Regions from separate parts of the Homo sapiens genome. Here region 2 is linked to region 1. A link means that fine-mapping ties the variant in region 1 to the expression of a gene that starts in the linked region. Tissue or cell type: whole blood. Region 1 holds a variant in brackets; the other region holds the start of a gene. All regions are shown on one strand. Distances are between the middles of the regions.

The links. PIP is the estimated chance that this variant, and not a neighbour inherited with it, causes the effect. A credible set is the group of variants that fine-mapping cannot tell apart.
Region 2: MMRN1 starts here. The variant in region 1 is the best candidate, but not a certain one, in a credible set for the expression of MMRN1 in whole blood (INTERVAL, PIP 0.85).

What each region holds. Positions count from the first base shown.
Region 1 is chr4:89,854,199-89,863,713 of GRCh38, forward strand. No RefSeq gene overlaps it. Among named protein-coding and RNA genes, the nearest start is that of SNCA, 22 kb to the left of the region's middle. The variant G/C (reference allele first, on the strand shown) is at 5,280.
Region 2 is chr4:89,890,161-89,899,675 of GRCh38, forward strand. MMRN1 (multimerin 1) reads left to right here and starts at 4,694. Exons shown (of 8, transcript NM_007351.3): 1 at 4,694-5,434. The coding sequence starts at 4,812. RefSeq lists a silencer at 8,145-8,345.

The DNA.
Region 1 (9,515 bases):
ACTGAGGCCAAGGATGTTCTCATACCACGTACAGGCAACCAATGCATAAATTCATCTCTGTTTACTCTAAAAGGAGTGGAAAGGAGAAGATGTTGCCAGAGATATCATACAATTCTGGCCTAATGTGAGGGAGGAGAAAGTTTTGAATTAGTTTACCACCTTTTGGAGTAAATTTAATGATTGAATTTGTCAAAGTTATAATTTCTACTCAGATTAAGGGATGGGAAAGAGAAAGCAAACACAGTATGTGTCTTAGTTCACTTGTGTTGCTAGTAAAGAACACTGATAATTTATAAAGACAAAATATTTATTTGGCTCACAATTCTGATTTCGAAAAAAGTTTAAAATTGGCCATCTGCATCTGGTGAGTGTCTCAGGCTGCTTCCACTCATGGCAGAAGGTGAAGGGGAGCTGGAATGTGCAGAGATTGCATGGTGAGAAAGGAAGCAAGAGGGAGAGGGGAGAGAGGTACCAGGCCCAGCCCTTTTTAACAACCAGCTCTCTTGGTAACTAATAGAGTGAGAATTCGCTTACCATCACCATGCCTAAGGAGGGGATTAATCTATTCATGAGGGATCTGCCCCCATTACCCAAACACCTTCCATGAAGCCCCATGTTCAACATTGGGGATCAAATTTCAACGTGAAGTTTGGAGAGGTCAAATATCCTAATGATAGCAGTATGGCTAAAATAATAAAGAAAATTGAAAAGCTTCACAGTTATACTCATTCTAGGTGAGGCTGGTCAATGAAGTAGCTACCATGGTTGATGGTCTGACTTGACCTTCTGAACTGCCAGACCTTGATTGAGACCTAGGTCTCATCCACGTGCATAGGCAGAGCTAAAACCTGAAAATTAGAAGAAATGACTTCAATCAACGTGGGATATAAATGAATACATTTTTACATATTATGCCTTGATTTTGGCAAAAATACTATTGAATTCAGATGCCTATATATTAATATAATTCTTATTCTGAAATAAACTTTGTTGACCTAGGGCAAGTGTCTTTTTCTTTAAGTACGCTTGTCACACTGCTACCAGGCTGACTTTTATGAATTTTTATACTGTTTCTCTCTTTCTCTTACATGACACTCTTTAGACACTCATCGTTGTTTACAAGGACTGGCCAATAATCTCCTCTGAGCTCTGACCTCTATGTAACCTGTCTAGGCTAATCCATGGCTCGTCTTATGTCCTACTGCAGTTCTACTGATTATTTACAATTGCTTATCTTCCAAGACTGCCCAAAAGTCATTTCTTTCATAAAGCCGTTTTTTCCCCTCCACTCCCTGAGAGTTGATAACTTCCTCTTTTGTGTCCTCACAATATCTTGAATCTGATTCTGAAATCTTCTTGTGGGAATTGTGCCCTCATTTACAGATGATCCCAAACTTATGATTTTTTGACTTTACAATGGTGTCAAAGTGATGCCCATTTAGTAGAAATTGTACTTAAAATTTTAAATTTTGATCTTTTCCTGGGCTATTGATATGTGATATAATACTATTACCTGAGATATTCAACACTTTATTGTAAAATGGGCTTTGTGTCATGCACAAACATAGCTTAGCCTAGCCTGCCTTAAAGGGCTCAGAATACTTACATTAGCCTACCCAAATGTAGGAGTCCAAATTTGTAGGTTAATGTGAGTGTTCTGAGCATTTTAAGTTAGGAAAAGCTTAAGCTATAGTGTTTGATAAGTTAGGTGTTTAAGTGTATTTTTGATTTGCAATATTTTTAATTTATGATAGGTTAATCGAGAAATAACATCACTGTAAATTGAGGAGCATCTGTAATTAGATGTTTGTTTTTTCATTTTCTCATATCCAAGCATCACCAGGACATTGCTCAACTAGATTACGTATTAAGTACTCAGTGATCATTTTATAAATGTGTAAATAAACATGTTAAAAATAATGTTGAGTCAGTGAGGGCAGTTCCAAGATGGCCGAATAGGAACAGCTCCAGTCTACAGCTTGCAGTGTGAGCAACGCAGAATACTGGTGATTTCTGCATTTCCAACTGAGGTACTGGGTTTATCTCACTGTGGCTTATTGGACAGTGGGTGCAGGACAGTGGGTGCAGCACATCGAGCATGACCCGAAGAACAGCGAGGCATTGCCTCACCCAGGAAGTGCAAGGGGTGAGGGAATTCCCTTTCATAGCCAAGCAAAGCTGTGACAGACGGCACCTGAAAAATCGGGTCACTCCCACCCAAATACTGCGCTTTTCCAATGGTCTTAGCAAGCGGCACACCAGGAAATTATATCCTGCGCCTGGCTCAGAGGGTCCCATGCCCACGGAGCCTTGCTCATTGCTAGCACAGCAGTCTGAGATTGAACTGTAAGGTGGCAGCGAGGCTGGGGGAAGGGCGCTCGCCATTGCTGAGGCTTGAGTAGGTAAACAAAGTGGCCAGGAAGCCCAAACTGGGGGGAGCCCACCGCAGTTCAAGGAGGCCTGCCTGCCTCTGTAGACTCCACCTCTGGGGGCAGGGCATAGCCAAACAAAAGGCAGCAGAAACCTCTGCAGACTTAAATGTCCCTGTCGAAGAGCTTTGAAGAGAGTAGTGGTTCTCCCAGCATGGAGTTTGGGATCTGAGAATGGAAAGACTGCCTCCTCAAGTTGGTCCTTCACCCCCGAGTAGCCTATCTGGGAGGCACCCCCAAGTAGGGGCAGACTGACACCTCGCACAGCCAGGTACCCCTCTGAGATGAAACCTCCAGAAGAGCGATCAGACAGCAACATTTGCTGTTCAGCAATTTTCGCTGTTCTGCAGGCTCTGCTGGTACCCAGGCAAACAGATTCTGGAGTGGACCTCCAGCAAACTCCAACAGACCTGCAGCTGAGGATCCTGACTGTCAAAAGGATAACTAACAAACAGAAAGGACATCCACACCAAAACTACAAGGCTACAGTAACCAAAATGGCACGGTACTGGTACCAAAACAGAGAGATAGACCAATGGAACAGAACAGAGCCCTCAGATAATACCACACATCTACAATGATCTGATCTCTGACAAACCTGACAAAAACAAGAAATTGGGAAAGGAGTCCCTATTTAACAAATGGTGCTGGGAAAACTGGCTAGCCATATGTAGAAAGCTGAAACTGGATCCCTTCCTTACACCTTATAGAAAAATTAATTCAAGATGGATTAAAGACTTCAATGTTAGATCTAAAACCATAAAAACCCTAGGAGAAAACCTAGGCAACACCATTCAGGACATAGGCATGGTCAAGGACTTCATGTCTAAAACACCAAAAGCAATGGCAACGAAAGCCAAAATTGACAAATAGGATCTAATTAAACTAAAGAGCTTCTGCACAGCAAAAGAAACTACCATCAGAGTGAACAGGTAACCTACAGAATGGGAGAAAATTTTTGCAATCTACTCATCTGACAAAGGGCTAATATCCAGAATCTACAAAGAACTCAAACAAATTTACAAGAAAAAAACAAACAACCCCATCAAAAAGTGGGCAAAGGATATGAACAGACACTTCTCAAAAGAAGACATTTATGCAGCCAACAGACACATGAAAAAAGGGTCATCATCACTGCCCATCAGAGAAATGCAAATCAAAACCACAACGAGATATTATCTCACACCAATTAGAATGGTGATCTTAAAAATTCAGGAAACAACAGGTGCTGGAGAGGATGTGGAGAAATAGGAACACTCTTATGCTGCTGATGGGACTGTAAACTAGTTCAACCATTGTGGAAGACAGTGTGGCAATTCCTCAGGGATCTAGAGCTAGAAATGCCATTTGATCCAGCCATCCCATTACTGGGTATATACCCAAAGGAATATAAATCATGTTGCTATAAAGACACATGCACATGTATGTTTATTGCGGCACTATTCACAATAGCAAAGACTTGGAACCAACCCAAATGTTCAACAATGATAGACTGGATTAAGAAAATGTGGCACATATACACCATGGAATACTATGCAGCCATAACAAATGATGAGTTCGTGTCCTTTGTAGAGACATGGATGAAGCTGGAAACCATCATTCTCAGCAAACTATCGCAAGGACAAAATACCAAACACCACATGTTCTCACTCATAGGTGGAAATTGAGCAATGAGAACACTTGGACACAGGAAGGGGAATATCACATGCAGGGGCCTGTTGTGGGGTGGGGGGATGGGGGAGGGATAGCATTAGGAGATCTACCTAATGTAAATGACGAGTTAGTGGGTGCAGCACACCAACATGGCACATGTATACATATGTAACAAACCTGCACATTGTGCACATGTACATTAGAACTTAAAGTATAATAAAAATATATATATAAAAGAATGTCGAAAAGCATATGGATGCTTTCAATAATCTAAGGATGTTTCACATAGAATATGATTAATAACAAAACCTTCAATTTTAAATATAACTATTTAAAATTTAATAAACATCATTACATGCCTATTCAATGGCAGGCATGGTGTTAAATACTAATTGTTTTTAAGACATAATCCATGATTTTGATGAACTCAAATTGTAAAAGGGTAAAGCCGGGTGTAAGAGCAATCTTGCATCTCTTAATGGCAGGACTCACATTATAAATGAAGATTTTAATGTAAGATTATTGAATTAAAACAAAATAATGAAGGCAATGAGAAGGCTAACTATATAATTTTGAATTCAGAACAGGCACTTCTGAGAGTGAAAGGAGACACTCCTGACAATTATGCTAGTCAGCAAGTATAAAACTGGAATATCTACATTTGGACAAACTGGGATGCATATTCATCCTAGTTAGAGGAGCATAATAATAAAAGATTTAAATAAGAGAAAAATGTGATCCGATTTGTTTTGCTTAAAGAGCACTGTGATATCTTGCAGATATTTGGAGGGGATGAAAACTAGATTTGGGGGAAAAAATTAGGATGTTATCTAGAAAGAAATTAGGAGATGCAAAAATAAGGCACTGACAATACAAATGTTAAAGGAAAAAATAATTTGAAAAACATTGGAAATGCAATGGATATGACTTAGGGATGCTTGTATGAGAGAATTGAGGAAGAGGGAGATGTCAAAATGGTTTGCTAATTTCTGATTTGGGAATATGTGAAGATGTTAAGGGCCTCCAACAAGAAAATGGTTCCCAGACATACTTCATAATACTTTTAACTTGAAGAACATTTTATTTAAAGGAAAGAATAAGTGTGACTTAAATCTATTTTGCTTTTGAAAACATAATCTGAACTAACTTGAATAAGCATGCTGTTTATAATATTTATGGAACATATGGGTGTTTATT[G/C]CCCTTTGAAAACACATTTAACAGTTTTAAAATATATTCAGCCCTTCATCACCTTCTCCTAAAAACCTTTTCTGATCTCTCAAGTTGGCCTCAGTATTCACAAGCCACTGTGTGTACTCTCCTATTGCTACACCTGTGACATTATGTGAAAGTAATCTATTTATATATATATGTTTATATATATATAAATAATATAAATATATATTTATATATATAAATATATATAATATAAGGAAGATATATATATCTTCCCTATTTGTAGAGTGCACACTACTTCAGTGTGGGGAGAAAATACTGTTATTATTTCTACCCCATGCTTTGTTCAATGCCTGCAAAGTATTAGGCAGTCAATAAATGTGTATTGAACTGGGACAAACACCAGGCATATATTATTTTTGCAGGAAAAGACATTTCACATTTTTAACTCAGAATGTTGGTGTTTATTGTGTGCTTTTTATGTGCCATGTGCTGTAAAAATATGTGAAAATATGAAGAAATGCTGTTCTAGGCAGAGGGAACAGCATGAACACAGAGCCACCACTACTAAAATAGAGAATCTCGATTTTTAAGAGAGACTTCATCTTTGGGGATAATGGGATTGGAAATATCTCTGGATTCTAAAGCAGCAGTGGAGGCTTCTGCTGTGTAGATTGAGAGAGAAAAGAGGACTATATTGGTGACTACGTTTGGATGGAAAGATAAAAGAGAATAGGCTGAGAACTCCAGGGGGAAACTTCTGAAAAGGCAGGGAGGGAGACTAGGGTTCAAGGGAGAAGGAAGACAAGAAGAGAGACATACACTTGTATGTAAAACATGCCCAACCCTGTACAGTTGAGTTCCGGGATGAGTATTTCCCCAAACATAGACCACCATACAGGAAATTCGTTGTGAAAAAATTTACAAGTTTAATTTTAACAATACAATCAGATCTGGTTTCTATAAGAAGAAACTTTTAAAAGTGAAGAGAGGTATCTATCAATATCAGAATTATTTTTTTCCTGAATGAAGCTAAGTGTTTTGATTTTTGTCCTTCTAGATACACTAAATCCATGGTTTTTATATGGGCCTGTGGTGGGGCCTGAGAATGTGCATTTCTAACTCATTTCCCAGGTAATGCTGATGGTGCTGGCCCAAGAATCATACCTGGAGAAGTACTGCAGTAAATGGACTAAATGTCCAGGTAGTTGGTGTCAAATAAACACAAGCTAAAGTAAATTATAATTTTACTAATTAATTTCTATATTTTAGCATGTTAGATCATTTTATAAAAAATATTCTTACATTAATCCTATAAATATGTTATAAATATATACTTTAATATAACCTATATAAGTACTTGTATAAGTATATTCCAAAAGTGTAACTACTTACACTTATATAAGTTATAAATATATATCTATAATTCCATCACTCAAATAAAGTACATTGGAGTAATTACATCACTTAAATAAAAGTAAAGATTGCTAACACCAATAGTAAGTGTTTATTGATAGCTTATTATGGCCCAGGCTGTGACCTAGTGTTTTTAATTAATTAATTAATACTTGTTAATTAAGTTAATTAACCTCATTCAATCCTCTGAATTGTGTTGGATACTCACAGTAGTATTTACTCCGCAAATCAGGAAACTGTCGCTGAGGCCATAGTTTGAGGCCGAGGACCCAAGCTGGGCTGATCCAGAGCCTCATTCTTGGCCACGTGCTCTTTTGTTCTGCCTCAGGCAATGAAGCAGACAATAGATTCACAGAGGGATCATGGACATACCCTAGAGCTGCTCTTCTCCTTTTCTAGGACTAATGTATTCTGCTTTGAAATATAAGGTCTTTTTTGGCAGTATCGCAATATAGCAGCATGCTGTTAATCCAGTGAAAAGTGCACTGAGCTGCTGTCCATATTTATACATTTAAAAGGCATTGGGAATTATATATTTCACTTTTGTGGTCCAAAATTTATTCCCTGGACAATAACAGAAACTTGTGTAAATCCCATTTATAGGTTCTATGGCACAGATCCCAATCCTATGGGGAGCAATATACCTCAGGAATATTGTACAACAATGCTCTGAACTTCAGTTTGAAGGCTGCCCTCCTCTCACAAGGAAGGGGAGGTTTGTGGCTGATATCAGCCTTATATATAGAGAGAGGTCATCTAAAGCAAGAAAAAGTAAGATTTAGCCTTTTCTAGGTGATTTGAAATTGGATCTCTTTTAATATGCAGCAGCACACTGTTGACGTAGTAGGTAGGCATGTGCAACTGAGGTATTTTGTACTTTCAAATGAGTAGTAAGGAAGTCAAAACTTTTAACTTAAATAAGCCAATTTCTTAGACATTATCTATAAGATGATTAGAAAAGAACAAGGATTGAAAGTTGGGGAGGAAGGAAGAAACATTTTCCATCACATACATATTGCTTACAGATTTATCTCGGATAATAGGGACTGTGAACAAAAGTTCTCTGAAAAGGAATTTGGAAGAAAGAGACTTTATTCCAGTGAACAGTTTGCAAACCGTGATTCAAAGCTTTTGGTGTAAAATGAAGGTGTGATCCAGAGAACCAAGAGAGGGTTCAGTTATTATGGCAAAAGTTCCCACCCAAGTTTCCAGTCAGGTTTGTTTATGCAAATGCTCAGTTCCCATTGTTTGATACAGCTGAGCCCTGATTGGTTGAAGCAGTCCAGGCCTGATTGGTAGATCAGGTGAGCTCTGGAAGTCCCAAAGTTGAGCAGAGCTGTAGGTTTTCAGGGAACTCAGAGTATACATGTGTGATCTTTAGTCAGCAAATGGCCACTTGCCTCTATTTAAAACATAGCCCCATTTAGCCACTCAGGTTGTATTTTGAAAGATTGGCTCTTTCGGTTCACATTTGTTCACTGGACTAAGGTATTTGCAGATTAGGAGTAAAAGAGAATGAACTTCCTAAGTTTCATTTTGGTAAGTGAAGGAAAATATAGCTATCTCGATTACTAGGAACCAACCGTTTTCCAAATTTTAGAGTTTTCATGAGGAGGCATTTTCCCTGAATTATTCTGAATTCTTTCCCTACCCCTTATTCTGCTCAGGAGAGCTTCAGTGATTTAATAAATGGGTTAAAATTGGGAAGAATATACAATTAGGCTTGGTTTAGCTAATTCTTGTTACCACTTGGGGAAAAGCTGTCATTTTTCTATTTCTTCTCGACGTAAGTCTTCACTTGGGCACCGTAGCACTTTGGAATGCCTTCCTCACAATTCTCCAAATCGCCCTCCCTCCCACGCTGGGAACTTCAGGGTTTGCAGTGCTTTTCAGGAGCTGCACTCTCAGCCTGAACAGGACCCCTGTGGGCCAGCCTCTTCACCCTTTTGAGATGCTACTCTCAGACTTCCTAGCCCTGCTGCCTGTGGGGTCAACCAGATGCCCCACAGAATGCTGGGGCTCAAGCCTATAGAATAATTCTGGGACTCTATGGTTAATTCAGGTCTAGGAGGGCAGCCTGGCTAGTGGATCACTTCTCACTGAGTGGAGAGGTATTTCTTTGCAAGATTTGGTAGGCAGAACCACGCTGAAATGTCTTTTAGGGTGACCCACTCATGTTGAACACAGGGCCAGTGCAGGGTTCCCAGCTAGCTATACACTATCACTGACCCTGGGAGCTTGAGCCGTGTGTCTGGGCTCTTGCATGTGGTCTCAACTGTCCATGTTTCCTTCATGGTACCACCTCAGGTCTACAGCACCGCAAGAGTTGGGTGGGGAAAGGTGCTCTGTACCCTGTGTGCCCCTCCAGCTACTGTGCCACTCTTTCCACAGGCTCTGTGGAAAGGAGAGAGTGCAGTGCACCAGGGAAGGCCCAGAGATACTGGTGTGTGCTGGAATAATCTGATGGTGTTTCATGGGATAAATTGTGTAAGTAGCAATCAGAGGTGAAGACTGAGAGCAAGCGGAACTGGAAGGTGCAATGGATAGGAGGGCAGAGTGTAAACAACAAACCGGTATCTCAGCAACAAAATCATGCATTTCTGTGTTGAGTGTTTTATCTTGAGCATCTGGAAAAAAGGTGGCAGCTTTGATAGAGAAAATTTTAAAAGGCAGGCCGAAACTTGGGTTCTAAGGAAAGCTGACTTAGTTTTTCTTTTTTTTCAACATTTTCATGAATTGCTGGGATAAACACTTCTTTCTGCTTACTTGCCTTTCAAGCCCGCAGATCACTCTTTATGAACGTAGAATGTGGTTTCCCTAAGTCGGCCTGACACAGGTGAGGAG
Region 2 (9,515 bases), 36 kb after region 1:
CTCATGAGGTGGAAGTTTAATTCTCCCTTCAGGCTTTGCTGGCAAGGGTGGGTTCTTTTGTCTTTTATTTTGCTTTTTTTTTTTTTTTTCCCCTGTGCTCTATGGTGGGAGTAGAGTGGTTATTTTCTAAAAACTTTCTCTTCTTTCCAGGCTGACAATTCTCTAGTCCTTGGCCTAAAGAGAGCTTTTATTGGGGCTTTTATTGTTTCTGCCCATTGGCGTTCCTAGTTTGCCAAATTCTCCAGTACCCAGAAATGAGGCAAAAGTAAACTTGGGAACTCAGTGCTTCATTGTTCCTTGGGTCACCTAGCCATTCTGCCTTCTTTTCTCCACTCTTCAGAGTCTTATTCTATTTTTTCTATATATAATGTCCATATTTTCAGATGTACTTAGCAGAAGGAATAGGGAGATATGTCTATTCCATATTTCCAGAAGTGGAAGTCACTAATGATAATCACTTGATAACCAGATACAGCTTTCCATTAAGAAAATGAAAATATGGTTATTTCTAAAATGATCAAAAGAAATGCGTTTTGAACTCTTTCACTTCAAGGGTACTGTTCTGCGTAAATGGGAAATATAAAATCAGCAATGACATGGTTTTGTGAACTATTCTTACATTCATTTTCTCATGAGGGGCATTTGGTCATCTTTATCAGTATGTTCCTTATGATCTTATAAAGTTAAAATTTTAATATTAGGACAAATATGTTGTTTTTTTTTCCTGATAAACTAATATGTTTCTCTCACTTAATATTAAGAATTATATAATTCATTAATTGTCCATCTTCCCTTTCCTGCCAGCCCACTCAAACCTAAATTTTCTTACTTCCAATTTATTTGCTTATCTTAAATTTTTCTAGCATCACTACTGCTTCATTATCTTTTATTCTACAACTCCCAGTCTTTGGTTTATTATTCTAATGTGGCTGTGACGGCTTCAAAATAAACCTTCTCATATTTATTTTGAGAATAGATAATATAGAAACAATGGGCTTTCTGAATTTTCTTTAGGAGTAACTTACAGGAGGCAATCTGACTGAATGGGTATTTCAGAAGACTTTTGAAGGTGTGTTCCCGGAACAAGTTCATTATATTTATTTAGATTACTTTTTTTTTCTTTTGTGTGGCTATAATAATGTGAAATAGAGCCCTCTTCAACCCATTTGTTATCACTATACATAGGAGTATGGTCATAGCTTCATCTATTCGTTCACTGATTCAACAAATATTTACCGAATACCTATTGAATCAGGATTGGGCATAAATATCTGTTCTAACAATTACTAATGTGTTACCCTAGGAAGTTATTTAACTTCTTTAAGTTTAACTTCCCATGAGTATAACAAGAATAGAATACTTACCTAACATGTTTGTAAGAATTAAATAATATGCCAAATTTAACTTACCTAGCACATCGACTCATCAAAATCATGCAGAAATCAGTTTCTCTTCTTCTCCAGCCCTTTTGCTGTATGTTGATAACCCCCTTTGTCCACATGTAAATTTGACAGGTTTTCAATATTTTTCAAACACCATTAAATTGAAAAAGCTCTAAAATTTGTTTTCTTCTATTATTTTTTGACAGATATGTCTTATGGAGGAAGGTAATAATGAAATCATATTTTGGATGTTTTAAACTATTTTAAGAAAATAGGAATTTCTCATGTGAAAAATGAAGAAAACAGCTGCTGAAAAATCCTATTAATCTGGTGGAAGTTAGCCCATACCCCCAACATTTTACAAAGAATAAGTCTTGCAGCTATAAAAATGCTTTGAATAGTACACAGCACCATCTACAGTGAACTCCTCAATCTAAGATTCTCTTTTAACTCACATTTATATTTTCTTTTAACTTAATAATCTTTTTTTGTTTTTTTTTCTTGTGGTTAGAAAATTAATTCATATGCATTATAAGGTGGAAAAGAACCAAACCCATTATCTCATCACCTACAGACAACCCATGTTGCAGTATATAGTGAATCCTATGTTTATGATACAATGAAAAATGACATAAAAATCTCCTGATAACTCATAATATAATAAATTTCATGATTTTTATCTTATAAAATATTCATGGTGAACAAATGGCAAGATGGTAAAACATAATTTAATATGAACAACCAAGTGGGAAATGGGAGGTATAGCAAAATGACAGGGTCCAGTTATACAAAACTGATGATATAGTTTAATCCAACAATAGTATTTTAGTATCTAGTATCTAGTATAATAGTATCTAGAAGAATGAGTAAACTGAGTACTCTTCAGCCAGTCATCTCAGCAATATTATTTTTCTTAATTGTTATTTAATGAGTATTAATTAGTCTCAGAAAGAAGAATTTGAGACAAGGTCTCTGACAATTTCTGGAGTATTTTATACCTCTAATTAAGGGCTGATCCATATACCCAAAATCACTAAATGAGCTTGAGATTCTCTGGGGAGTTAAAGTGCAAGATGGCTTAGTAGATCAATAGTGAGATACAGAACCTTTAGCCTTTTGATTTCAGGGTCCCTTGTAAGCTAGGATAGGGGTGAGCAAAAGTCATTATTGGTCAATACCTTATAAGTGGTTAAATGAATTGCTTAGCTTTGTTCAGTTTTTATTATCATTGGATAACTATTTGTTATCAGTTATAGATCCAATGGGTGACATTTTACCACTAAAGTTCACTTGCCAGACCAGGTTTGAACAGTCTTTCAAACTGTAGAAGAAAACAAAAAATCAGTGAATGTCATTATTTTGGCAGTTTTGTAAATCTTCAAGACAGTCCATTCATCTATTTTTACTAAAGCTAGGAAAATTGGTGTAAAATTGAATATAAATAGGAACATTTTTCCTAAATTTTATGAAATTACTGCTCTTCCATAAGCCAAAGCTAGTTTCTTCTGTGTTTTCCAGATAAAGACACTGTAAAGCCTTTTTCTTTCTACTGAAAACCATGTTTGTATTGTGACAGTTGTGCAGTTTCATTGCTCTTTTGCTCTTTTTAGTAACTAATCGTTTCCTGGATTGTCTCTGCTGGACCTTTTTGCTCCTTTACTAAGGCAAGGTTTGTGGATTGTTCTGTGGTATATCTGAGAAACGGATGCTTTTTACTCCATATCAGAGTCGATTGGGGTTGCTGATGATTGTCTTAGTTTAAATAAATACTCTCTAGTAGGTCAACAATACACTTACGGAAATAAATGGCAAAGATTGAGGGAAGAAAAAAATATTAATCCCAAGTAGTTAGTAGCTCAAGGAAGAATTAGGCCTTATTTCAAATCCTGGTGCACTGTGTCCAGGAATAAGGACTAGAGAAAATATCTACAATAAAACATAACCAAGCAGGCATTAGATTTCCAATTCTCTAATTTTGAAAGACGGAACTTAATAATCTAATAACAAAAAATAAAATCTAATAATAGTTTAACAATCAATGACTGAATATTTAGCAAGAGCATAATGCCTGGCACAGAAGTTGACAGAAAAATGGGTTACACATGGATTTAGCTTCCAAATAACATAACAGACATTTAGCAAATTGACAGCAAAGAATATTTTTGTTTTCCTTATAATCCTAGCACATAAGAGAGTGCTTTGCACAGAATGAGGGGTTATGTAACTACTGAATTCATGAATACATAAATAAATGAATGAGTGAATGAATGAATGAACTATTATAACTTAGTTTGTATATCTATTTAAACAGACTGATATGAAATTTTATAGATAAGAGGTTAATTGAAATCTGAGGATCAGAGATTTGCTGGAGAAATTAAATGATAAATCTCATGAAACATCTCTACCAGAAAAAAACCCATAGAAAACTCAGATAAATCTGGTTCTCTGCTACCTACAACTGGCATAATTTTGTCCTACAGTAAATGTATAAAAGCATTCTATATGATCCCATTTTAATTTATTTTTATGTGACTCCATTTTTTCTTCATCTATCCCTTACTAGTAAAATATTGGTTACCCCCAACCATCAGACAATCGTGATTGGAAAATAAAGGAAGTAAAATTCTGATTATTTATTCCATTAGTGGGTATCTCTGGTAGAAGTTCCAGGAGCAAAATTTAAAGTGACTTCCTGGTATACCTGTCTAATTCAATTACTTATGCTTTCCTTTTCTGTTATTACTTATAATCATTGAGATTAAGTAATGATACAGCTGAAGTGTATTTATAAAAATAGAAAGATATACATGTATGTAGATAGATGTTTTATAATTCAGAGTATATGTACTATATGAAAGGATAGAGACACTGTAAACAAGCTTTTGATTATGTGTATGCATGTGGATATACACTTGAACAAAATGCAGCTTTCTGGATAGAGCACAGCAGATAAGTATCATAAAAACTTTTCTCAGTGTCTTTATGTAGTAGAACAAAATGTTAAAACTGTATTCAGCCTATATCAACAAAATTTTGCACTCTCTATCGTGAACCTGAAATTTCTCTTTGAAATCAGTGAAACGTGAAACCAGGGTGTGCTCAGGAAAAGAAAGTTACTTCATATTTTTTCATGGGTTTTCCTGATAATAATTGCCTGTGCTTTCCCATTTACCCTTAGCTTTGTCAGAGACCCTTCAGCACTTCCATAGAGCCATCCCACTAGAGGTCACAGATCACAAAAACCCTACAGAAACAGGAAACCGAACTTCCTGAGTACGCTACAAAACACAGAAACCTGTTTCCTCTACACATCTCAAACTGGCAAAACTCAGTCTTAGCAGATTCAGTGTGGAAGCAGCTATCAAAAAGGCCATAAGGATTTTGTCCCCAAATTTCACATGAGCTACCTTGCTTCAAACTACTGAGATGAAGGGGGCAAGATTATTTGTCCTTCTTTCTAGTTTATGGAGTGGGGGCATTGGGCTTAACAACAGTAAGCATTCTTGGACTATACCTGAGGATGGGAACTCTCAGAAGACTATGCCTTCTGCTTCAGTTCCTCCAAATAAAATACAAAGTTTGCAAATACTGCCAACCACTCGGGTCATGTCGGCGGAGATAGCTACAACTCCAGAGGCAAGAACTTCTGAAGACAGTCTTCTTAAATCAACACTGCCTCCCTCAGAAACAAGTGCACCTGCTGAGGGTGTGAGAAATCAAACTCTCACATCCACAGAGAAAGCAGAAGGAGTGGTCAAGTTACAGAATCTTACCCTCCCAACCAACGCTAGCATCAAGTTCAATCCTGGAGCAGAATCAGTGGTCCTTTCCAATTCTACACTGAAATTTCTTCAGAGCTTTGCCAGAAAGTCAAATGAACAAGCAACTTCTCTAAACACAGTTGGAGGCACTGGAGGCATTGGAGGCGTTGGAGGCACTGGAGGCGTGGGAAATCGAGCCCCACGGGAAACATACCTCAGCCGGGGTGACAGCAGTTCCAGCCAAAGAACTGACTACCAAAAATCAAATTTCGAAACAACTAGAGGAAAGTAAGAAATCTTCTTTTCTTTTTGTTCTTTCTCTGTCTATCAGGTCTAGAAGATTGCAAGTGAAATTTACCTCACTCCCAGAAAATTATTTCAAATTCAAGATGAAATTGGATCATATTTATAATTTCACCATTTCAGTTAGATAAAGTTATTGTTAATTTATCTAATAGGGAAAAATGAAGAAATAAAATGCAGCAATTTTGTTTTAACTGAAATAATCATTCACTTTTCTACTCACTTATAGAGGTAGTTTTACTTAGAATAGTCATTGCCAAGCAAACTAGCACCACGGTGGCTGTTAGTTTAATTCAAGGATATGTTGATTGTGTTCCCAACCATATTCACAATATGAAAGACAAAAATAAACAAATAAATAAAATTGGGGCTTGAACAGATGTGAAAATTGGAATAGCAGTATTATAAAAAGTAACAGTTGTCAAAGATCGAAACAAGCACACCAGGGGTGCAATCCTGGCTTCAGTATGGTCTAGTTCCATGATTTTGAGCAACTCAGTTGATGTCTGTGAACCTCAGTTTCTTCATATGGAAACTACAGATTTAATACAAGGAATGTCAATAAAAATAAAACTTTGCAGGGTTCTCGTTCAGATAAAAATGAATGAAAAGTGCTTAGATGCATGCTCCTCACAGAATAGGTGCTCAACAACTCAAATTTTGCTAGTACCATGATTATTTTGAGTTGTGTTGCCATCATGAATATGATGAATCAGAAAACTTATTTTTCAAATTAATTTTAATTTAAAGTTAGAGCAATTTGAGTGGTTGAAATAAAATAAAACAAATTTAAAGGAGTGTTGTTAAAGAGGGTTTTCAAAAGAAGTGATAGTCAAATCAAAATAAACAAAGAAAAAATATCTGGGTGGGTCAATATTTTATTCATTTAATGCTCAGAGTCATCTGTATGTTTGGAATACTAGAAGTTTAGTATTGCAAAACTAAACTTACAAATAGTTTTTACATGTAATAATACAAAGTCAAGACACCAGACATGTCTTGGGAGCAAAATGGGGTTAAATATCTTACTAATAATAAAATAAAATCCAAGTTAAAAATAGAAGTTGACACACCTGCTATGTGAAAGACATTTAGTTAAAGCTGTTGCTGATATAAAGGTGAGAAGAAGAGAGACACTGGTAAGAATTCTAGCCAATGAATTTACTTATTTCTGTATTATTTATTATTCAAGTCTATTTTTCACTATATTTCAAAAGTTATAGAATTTTTCGAAATATATAAGTAAATCTGATTGTAACTAAAAAAGTATTCACTTGGTGGACTTTGGAACAATCCCAGCTTACTGTAAAACAAATAGTACAGATTACAATATGTTCACTTTGGGACAAGTAGATTTGCCATTAAAAAAACATTTAACAGACATGCATTAATCTTTCTCACTTTGGGGGACAACAGGATTTTATCTATTAAATAATCAGAAATGTCATTTATTGACAGCTTTTTCTAAATCACTTGAATGCATCATTTCTGTTAATCATATTTTATTAGAGGCTGTAATTAAATTTTTAAAAACTAATTACAGTAAAACCCTTGGACATTCATGGGAAACGATTGTGAGCTTTTCAGAGATGCTATAGCTAAGAATTTTTTTTTTTTTGAGACGGAGTCTCGCTCTCTTGCCAGGCTGGAGTGCAGTGGCACAATCTCGGCTCACTGCAATCTTCGACTCCCAGGTTCAAGCGATTCTCTTGCCTCAGCCTTCTGAGTAGCTGGGACTACAGGTGGTGTGCCATCACACCCAGCTAATTTTTGTATTTTTAGTAGAGATGGGGTTTCACCATGTTGGCCAGGGTGGTCTTGATCTCTTGACCTCATGATCCACCCACCTCAGCCTCCCAAAGTGCTGGGATTACAGGCGTGAGCCACCGCACCCAGCCAGAATTTTTTAATAGAAAGGGAAATATAATAAACAGAAAAAAGAGACAATTCAAGTTAAAATAGCATTTAAATTTTACATACCATATAGAAAGTGGCATACAGTTGTGTCATAATTAGAACTAGTAACTAATAGTTTGATAAATACTAGTTTTTAAATAAATGCTAGTTGTGTTATCCAAGGTCCTTGCTTTCAAATGTTGGGAACAATTTGATGAATATTTATAATTTGCCCATCATGTGCTAGCACTGTGCTAGGCTTTGGGTTACACAGAATTTAAAAAAATAATAATAATTCCTCTGTCTAAGGAATATTCCCTATAAAAAGTAAACACTAACATACCTATCAGACTTCAAAAAATGTTAATATGTGCTATGAGAAAACAAGATACTAAAGGTATAACTTGCTGAACAGAACTTTATCCTCTGGATTTTCTAACAAAAATAATCTTAAACTCCTTCTATAGAAAAGTACTAACTGCATGTAGGGATTCTCTTATTTGAGGTCCTGGAGAGCCTGAGGTTTTCTTTTAGTAATCCTTTCCATTACCAAGATTCCTTACTCATTAGGCCATGCAAATGACAATGGCATTAGAGAAAAGCCTAGGTCCTTCACTTTTGGACACAGTGCTGCTGCAAACCCTTGATATGGTCAAAAGAAGTCCTTCGTACTTTCATTTGATTGGCAAATAATAATAATAATAGTAGCAAACACTTATATGGCATCTGTTACTAGTACTCTACTATTGTCAGTGAATATATTCACTCATTTAATCATTACTATAACTCCATAAAGAAGAGGAAGATTTTTATCATTATTTCTTTACAGAGGGATTAAGTAGCTTACCTAAGGTCACTTGGCTAACAAAGCTCAGGGCAAAGACTCAAATCCAAGCTGGCTGGCTTTAGAGTTGTAGCTCTCAGCTCCTACATTACACTCCCTTGGCAGGTACAGTCTCTTATCACAAGTGGGAAGATAAGCGTGACCAGTTCACTTCCCAGCTCGTGAGGCTTCACAGGCTATTGGTTGCCTCCAGAATACAATCTAGATTTGTTACCCAGTTAGTCACACGATGCCATCCTAGATCTGCCTCCTGCCTACCTCCCCAACCTCATCTTCCGCCACTTCCGGCTATTCAAATAAGTGGTTCTCTGGTACAATATGTGCTGTTTGTTAAACCCACCTTTCTTCCCTGTCTGCCCCTGTGACTAACAATGGGCCCTCTTTTGCCATCGTTCTCTCTTTTCACACCTAATAATAACTCCAGGAAGCCTTCTCAGGTGAAGTTAGGTGGCCTTTCTAATCGCTCCTACAGGTCTCTTTGAATTCCCCTGTTCACTGCACTTACGACACTACATAATAATCATAATGAATTTGTAGTATCTTTGCATATAGGGACTTATTTTCAGAGCTAGCAAAGTCTCTGGTTTATAGCAGGTACACAATCAATATTTAATCATACTGAATGTGAAATATGAGGATTAATATGTGAATATAAAGAAGAAAGCTTCCCAAATATTTGCATTTGTTTATGAAAAAAACCTGGTTGATTTAGAATAAACTCATATTTGTTCTTTTTTCTACCATTCTTGGAATTTTATAATAATTCTTAGTAAAAGGCGTATTTATGTTTATTACAGGTTCTTTTCTAGATTATTCAGGATTATTCTGGCATATTTTTGTTTCATCTTGTAGTTTTTCTTCTTTTTTTTTTTAGCCTTGCAGGAACTCCTGGCCAAAATAGACCTATGGTTTCCTGTCTGGCAGAGTGGGTGTTAGTCAATGACCAAGCACTTTGAAATAGGAAGGATGGAAATAAGAAATTAGGATTAGTGTATTTATATGTTGAACAAATATTTGCTGAACACCTTATCTGTCCCAAGCACTGTGCTTGTGCTGGGAGTAAAACAATGAACAAGAACTCCTACATGTCCTGCCTTATGGAACCAACAGCCCAGTGGCAGAGGTGAGAGGAGGAATAACAGTGAATCACAAATGCTGATTCTGAATGAAGCTTAAGAAATTGTAGTGTATAATGGGGGGAATGGCCTACCAATTGTGAATGGGGTCAGTAAACCTTGCCTGAGAGGATAATAGGTGAAATGAGGTAATGATACAATCTAACTGCCTACTTAGCTTTTCCCACAATTCCCAACCCCTGTACACATG